Linked DNA regions of Homo sapiens. The protein of the gene in region 1 purifies or fractionates together with the protein of each later gene. This does not show direct contact. Each region holds a gene or a part of one and is shown in the gene's direction. Other genes may lie near its edges. The genes, in order: ZDHHC8 and P4HA3.

What was found.
Region 2: the proteins of ZDHHC8 (region 1) and P4HA3 purify together in Homo sapiens (co-immunoprecipitation; one large-scale study listed by IntAct). This does not show direct contact.

The regions. Positions count from the first base shown.
Region 1 is NC_000022.11:20,141,496-20,145,155, forward strand, and holds part of ZDHHC8 (palmitoyltransferase ZDHHC8), read left to right. Parts: coding exon 1-35; intron 36-1,260; coding exon 1,261-2,261; intron 2,262-3,660. UniProt on the Homo sapiens protein: Palmitoyltransferase that catalyzes the addition of palmitate onto various protein substrates and therefore functions in several unrelated biological processes.
Region 2 is NC_000011.10:74,266,585-74,270,392, reverse strand, and holds the end of P4HA3 (prolyl 4-hydroxylase subunit alpha-3 isoform 1 precursor), read left to right. Parts: intron 1-672; coding exon 673-741; intron 742-2,151; coding exon 2,152-2,248; intron 2,249-2,581; exon of another isoform or gene 2,582-2,797; intron 2,798-3,074; coding exon 3,075-3,145; coding exon of another isoform or gene 3,146-3,332; 3' UTR 3,333-3,736; downstream 3,737-3,808. UniProt on the Homo sapiens protein: Catalyzes the post-translational formation of 4-hydroxyproline in -Xaa-Pro-Gly- sequences in collagens and other proteins.

The DNA.
Region 1 (3,660 bases):
GTCCCAAGGTGCCCTTCTGTGGACCAGGCGAGCAGGTAAGGAGGCCTAGCCTGCCCCCTGGCAGGCCTCGTCCCCCAGGCCCGCCTCTAGGAGCTCGCCCCACAGCCTTCACCCCGTGAAGGCCCCACCTCCAGAGCCCCATCTCTCCAGCAGAGGCCACATCCCCTGAGGCCATGCCCCTCAGGGCTCTGCCTGGGTCACCAAGGGCCTTGTGTGACTGGTAGGACCCTGTCTGTGTGCACCCAGAGCTGGGACCCACAGAGGGGAGCAGGGTGTCCTGGGAGGGGCTGGCGTGGGCCATCCAGGCTTGGCGTCTGTCCCTTGGCCAGCATTGCCCTAGGCCAGGTGGGCGGCTGCCCCCAGGAGCACTGTGTACCAGGATGCCTGGAATTCCACCATTAGTCACTCTGTAAGGCCCACGGGAAGACTTTGGAAGAATTTGAGACGTGCTTGAGAAAGCACATTTCTCTTCCCTGAGTTGCATGAGTGCTCTGTGGTCACTGGAATGGTGGGCAGTGCGGGGCGGTCTGTGCAGTGATCAGGAACACCAAACAGTCCCAGGGTGCCATCCTTCCTTCTGGGCCACCCCGAGAGGCAGGCCTGTGACTGGGCCCTGTGCACCTAGACCAGCCCCATCCCCAGGGACCTCTCCCCTCAGGACTGATGTCTTTCCTGGAGAGAGTCACTGGGTGAAGCAGTGAGTCTGAGCCTCCTTGGCCAAGGGTCTGAGTCTGCAGGCATGTAGGGGCCGTGCCTCGCAGGAGGAGGCATCCCTGTTTGGAGATGAGGGCTCTGGGTATGTCATCTTCCTGGGACTCCTGGGTCCAGTGGGGGATTGGGTCTGGTTGGCCAAGTGCATTGAGCCCACATTTGCCCTGATCCACTTCTGGCTTTGTGGTTCCTGAGGCTCTTGTCCCAAGCCCAAGCCCAAGCCCATGCCTATGTGCCCGTCACAGGGGCTAGACGAGGCTCCTCCTCCCTCTGGCTGCCCTGAGTGGTGGGCCCCTGGGGCTGCATGGCTCCAAGGGCAGAACCCCAGGTGTCTGCAGTAGCCAGCTGTGGCCTCCCTCCTGTTGCAGAGCCCCTGCCCCTCAGCCGTGGATGCTCAGGGACAGGGCCATGGGTCACTATGTGGCTCTTATGGCTCCTTGAGGCCCAGTTCCTGAGGCCACGGTGCCATGTGTGGCCCCCGTGGGTGCTGACTGGCGGCTGCAGGCGGGGTGGCAGGTGGGCAGTGGTGAGAATGCCTTCTCCCTACAGGTTCCAGGCCCTGATTCCCTGACCCTGGGGGACGACAGCATCCGTAGCCTGGACTTTGTGTCCGAGCCGAGCCTGGACCTCCCTGACTATGGGCCAGGGGGCCTGCATGCAGCCTACCCGCCATCCCCACCGCTCAGCGCCTCTGATGCCTTCTCGGGCGCTTTGCGCTCCCTGAGCCTCAAGGCCTCGAGCCGGCGGGGCGGGGATCATGTGGCCCTGCAGCCCCTGCGCTCTGAGGGGGGGCCCCCCACGCCCCACCGTAGCATTTTTGCCCCCCATGCACTGCCCAACCGCAACGGCAGCCTGTCCTATGACAGCCTGCTCAATCCTGGCTCGCCTGGTGGCCACGCCTGCCCTGCCCACCCAGCAGTTGGCGTGGCCGGATACCACTCACCCTACCTGCATCCTGGGGCAACGGGCGACCCGCCACGGCCCCTACCCCGCAGCTTCAGCCCCGTGCTGGGCCCCCGCCCCCGGGAGCCCTCGCCTGTGCGCTACGACAACCTGTCCAGGACCATCATGGCATCCATCCAGGAGCGCAAGGACAGGGAGGAGCGTGAGCGCCTGCTGCGCTCCCAGGCCGACTCACTCTTCGGCGACTCAGGCGTCTATGACGCTCCCAGCTCCTACAGCCTGCAGCAGGCCAGTGTGCTGTCCGAGGGCCCCCGAGGTCCCGCGCTGCGCTATGGCTCCAGAGACGACCTTGTGGCTGGGCCCGGCTTCGGTGGCGCCCGCAACCCTGCCCTGCAGACGTCACTGTCCTCGCTGTCCAGCTCCGTGAGCCGTGCACCGCGGACGTCGTCCTCCTCCCTGCAGGCTGATCAGGCCAGCAGCAACGCCCCGGGGCCCCGGCCCAGCAGTGGCTCACACAGGTCACCTGCACGCCAGGGCCTGCCCTCCCCGCCCGGCACTCCCCACTCACCATCCTACGCGGGCCCCAAAGCTGTCGCCTTCATCCACACGGACCTCCCAGAGCCACCGCCCTCGCTGACCGTGCAGAGGTGGGTGCCGGGAGGTGCGGGTGGGCTTCCTGGCACAGGGCAGCTGTCCAGCCGTCTCCAGGGCCCCTCTTGGCTGGGCACTCATAGGTCATCCCAGGGGCCTGAGTTTTTCTCTGGGGACGGGACAGGGAGGATGCGCCTCACCCTGCCTTGAAGGCCTTGGCTAGCCCGTGTGGCCCAGCTCTGAGGATGTCCTGGGCACGCTCTGGGGACAGGGTATGAGAATTTGTGTCCTGAGCCCGACGACTCGTTCTTCTAGAGCTGGCACAGACCCAGCATGTGGGAGGCCATGGGGCTTTCTCTTTGGGGCCAGTATCATGTGGCAGCCTGGGCCTCCTTTAGGCTGTGGCTCTGGCTTCCTGGGTCACAGTGGCCCTGTCCACCCAGGGCTCTCCCTGGGCCTGCTTGGCTGCATCTCTAGGAGGCTGGGGCTGAGGATATTACCTAGCAGCAGAATGTGCCACCCTGAGTGGCCGGGCCCTGGCCCTCCCTGTAGGACATAGTTCTAGGAAGCAGGGGCTTCCCTGCTCGTAGGTGGGGAAGCTGAGGACTGGAGAAAGCAGGCTGGCTCCAGGCACCCGGCAGGTTGGTGACTGAGAAGGCGGGGTCAGCTGGCTCACAGGCCCAGGTCCAGGTAGGAGAGCTGCACACCTGCTGGGGCCAGGACCCACGCCACAGACGCATGGTGTCCTCACGGCATCTGTCGCCCTGTCCGGGCCTGGAAACCTCAAGCACAGGCGCAGTTGTTTCCCGTCGGCAGATGCAGCCCCAGAGGGAGAGCCCAGCCCAGCCCAGCCCAGGCCACTTGGCCACAAAGGGGCTGAGGGCACAGCAGTCCAGCCCTGAGCGGGTCTCCTCTACCCCACAGGGTGGGACCTGTTCAGCTTTTGTGGAGTTGGGGAGGAGGCTGCCACTGGGAGTGATGAGTGGGGAGCCCGAGACCTAGAAGTGGGCAGCATTGCAGCCAGGCAGGGATCGCAGCCCGGGGACAAAGGGCTCTCGCCTCAAGAAGGTTTAAGTAGCAAAGATACAGCTGCTGTTGGTCAGCGCTGGTGGGCAGGAGGGCAGCCCCTCGTTTTCCTGAGAGAGAGCAGGAATGAGGCCAGGCAGAGTGGCTGGGCTCCCAGTGCAGGGCACGGCAGGGGCTCCATTCAGTGCCCACCTGGCTGCCCCATGCTCTCTGTGGCCAGTGCTGGCTAGGAGGGACCCAGGGACTCGGGAGGGTGGTGGCAGTTCTGACAACATCTGTCTGTCCTGTGACAGCACAGCTGCTCCCCAGGCAGGCTCTGCATCCCTCACCTGCTTTCCAGGTGAACCCTCCAAGCCCAGAGGGCAGGGACTGCACGGGGCCCCACAACTCGGCTGCACTAGTCCACGTCCGCGTCGTCTCTGTCTTGCT
Region 2 (3,808 bases), on another chromosome or scaffold:
CTAGAACAGACCAGTGATGAAACTCCTTAGCTTGGGTTCCCTGGAGAGGAGCAGAGTGATCTGGAGAATATGCCAAAGGTGTAATAAGTAGTTCCTATGATGCCCAGCTTTCAAGAAGAATCATAGTCTAAACTGGTTTTCAAGCCACAAGTCATGATCCATTATAGGTTGTGAGATTAATTTAGTGGTTCTGATGAGCATTTAAGAGAACCACACTAGAATAGAATAAAATAAAGTAGAGAAGATCAGAAGCTATCTCAGATATTAAGAATGTTTTATGACAATTATATTTCAGGAGGTGTGTGTGTGTATGTGTCTGTGTGTGTGTGTATGTGTGTGTGTCTTGGGTCATTATTTAAAATGTATTTTTTCCTAAGGGTCTCAGTCAAAAAGTTTGAATCTACTTATTGTAGCCCTCAATAAGGATGTTAGCTGGAAGGGAAAGAAAGGAAGAATACCAAAACATTGTCCTCTTGTGGCCCTGTAGGCAAACACCAATGCCATTGAGTAGGCTCCCGAAGTTCCTCCTGAGTTGGATGATTGTCTTTCAAGTATTTCTCTCAGAGTTGAAGAAAAGACCATGAGAAGGAATCTATGCAGATGTGACATCATATGACAGGGTAGGGAAGTCGGTGGCAGTTTTAACTCTGGCTTCTTCCTCTGGTCTTGTAGCTGAGCTCGGTGGAAGCTGGAGGAGCCACAGCCTTCATCTATGCCAACCTCAGCGTGCCTGTGGTTAGGGTGAGTGGGGCCCTGGTCCCAGAAGACGGGGTTGAGGGAGTGCAGCGCTTACCCTCTAACCTTCACGCTGTCTGTGCTTGCAAGCCCATTCCTGGGAGGAGGGCCAAAAAGAGGTCTTCCCCAATTCCCAGAATCACAGATCATCCCATAGTCTTCTTTACTACCGCACACATGCTCGTCACTTGTGCCTCTATTTGTTATTTTATTTACACTTATATTGCAAGTAGATGATTACATGTCTGTCTTCCCTGTCACAGTACAGCTCCTCAAGATAAGAGCTCTGTTTTATTTACTTTGGATCCTCTACAGCATCTAGTTCCTTCCATCATTAGTTCAGTCCACATTGAGAGCTAGAGGCACGGAGGGTGCAGAGGGAAATTCATAGCCCTTTGATCCAGGAGTTTACAGAGACGTCAGCAGGCATTATGATGTTGCAATAGGGATTTGGAAAGGATAGGCGCTGAGGAGAACTGAGTCTAAGAGGTTTGCTTCATGAATGAGTATTTCCTCCAAATTTCAGATCAGTCCAACTCCCTGGCAGCCCTTACCTAATTTAGGAATGAAATGAAGATAACTAAACGAGATCATTCCTGTAAAGCAGGTAGTACAGTGCCTGGCACATCCTGAGCATTCGATAATCAATGCCAGGTATCTCTGAATACTCAGGAGCTTGACGCCTCTTGTAGGCTTAGGAACATAGAGACTGCCAATGCATCCTGGAAAGCTCTTCATGACCTGGAGTTTTGTCTACTTTGAGGACCAAGGTTAAAGTAATTTGACTACAGGAAGTAGATACGGCAAAGAAGCCGTGTATGGGGGAAAAACATACAGGATTTAGCGTCAGAACACCTGGGCTTGAGTCCTCACTTTGCTCCTTCTTTTATTGCATTATTTAAAGCCCTGGGCCTCAAGTTCTTTGCTAGGAAACTGGGGATTATGATACTGCCTGCTCCCTGAAAGTGTTAATCATAAGTGCCTGAGGGAGGAAAAGCTTCTGAGTTAATGACATGCTTGGCTGTATGGGAATATTTTGTTCCACCTTGTGGTTTTGTTCGGTGTTTCTCCTCAGTGACCCAATGACAAATGTGCTCACCTTTCTCCCAGAACTCACCATGCTGTCTTGTTCAGGTCTGTTTTATGTCTGTTTCTTGTGAGCTCCTGGAGAGCAGAACTGGACGTAATTTGTCCCTGCAGCCCCAGGACCTGGGGTGCAGGGGACTCTGTCAGTGACCCATGCATGAAGGAGTAAATGGCAACTTATGCCATTTTGTGCCATTTTATGCATGCATTGCCCCCAGACTGCATGGAAAGGCTTCTTCAATGACATGCCTGCATTTGTCCTTAGTATGTGCTTCCCGAGGACTGAGGTTCTGGGCTGACCCTCCCTGGGGCTGGGCCCTCTTGTTTCAGAATGCAGCACTGTTTTGGTGGAACCTGCACAGGAGTGGTGAAGGGGACAGTGACACACTTCATGCTGGCTGTCCTGTCCTGGTGGGAGATAAGTGGGGTAAGTCTTGCCTTTCTGGGCATGAGAAGGGGGTACAGGGTGCAGAGTAGAGTGAAACAGGGGATGGGTGGGACCTACCACAGCCATCCCATTCCAAACGCTTCATTACAGTGCCACATTATATTGAGAAGATCAGATTATGAATGAGGTGCCCCCAACAGACTGGGAGCCTATAACAGGCAGGGGTTCCTGTTACAGAGTGACAGTCAGTAAAGGTTTATTCACCTGACCAGATAGGCCTTGATTCCTGAGCACTGCCAGAGAGGAATATGGTGTCCCATCCACACTCTACCCCAAGGAAAGATGTGTCAAGCCATTGTCTCTCCTGTTTAGTGCTCCCCATGAGGAGGTGGGAAAACAAAGAAGAGATCAATAAGCAGATGGACGTGTTTATGTCACATATACATCCAGGAGCACTTAGCTCTGAAACAGAAAGAGAAGTGGAAGGGGGCTCATAAGCTGAGGTGGAGGCTGCCAGGAGATGCCACCCGTTTTTCTCTCAGTACTCTGGAATGGCTTCATGGGGAACATGGGCTTCTAAAATGAAGGGTGAGTGATCTTAGTTCCCAAACGTTTGAAAATGAGTTTACAGGAGACAGGACCTGTGACTTTTTTCCAGAGGACAATGTCCTCTTTGCTATTTATCTGCTGGAAGAAACAGCTTGTAGTCCATAGTGAGGCCAGGACTAGGCTGGGCAAGTGAGTTACCTAGGATGCAGAATTTAAGGGGGCACTCACACGCGCCTATGAGTGCGCACCAGTCTGCAGCATTGCTGCTGTCTGTTCTGCTGAGCCTGCTGTCTCCTTCTTCCCTGTTCTCTCCCAGTGGCCAACAAGTGGATACATGAGTATGGACAGGAATTCCGCAGACCCTGCAGCTCCAGCCCTGAAGACTGAACTGTTGGCAGAGAGAAGCTGGTGGAGTCCTGTGGCTTTCCAGAGAAGCCAGGAGCCAAAAGCTGGGGTAGGAGAGGAGAAAGCAGAGCAGCCTCCTGGAAGAAGGCCTTGTCAGCTTTGTCTGTGCCTCGCAAATCAGAGGCAAGGGAGAGGTTGTTACCAGGGGACACTGAGAATGTACATTTGATCTGCCCCAGCCACGGAAGTCAGAGTAGGATGCACAGTACAAAGGAGGGGGGAGTGGAGGCCTGAGAGGGAAGTTTCTGGAGTTCAGATACTCTCTGTTGGGAACAGGACATCTCAACAGTCTCAGGTTCGATCAGTGGGTCTTTTGGCACTTTGAACCTTGACCACAGGGACCAAGAAGTGGCAATGAGGACACCTGCAGGAGGGGCTAGCCTGACTCCCAGAACTTTAAGACTTTCTCCCCACTGCCTTCTGCTGCAGCCCAAGCAGGGAGTGTCCCCCTCCCAGAAGCATATCCCAGATGAGTGGTACATTATATAAGGATTTTTTTTAAGTTGAAAACAACTTTCTTTTCTTTTTGTATGATGGTTTTTTAACACAGTCATTAAAAATGTTTATAAATCATTTTTCCCAACTGAGAATATTCTTACATTATAATGCTGAGTGGGAAAAAAGGGAGAGTACAGTTGGCCCTCC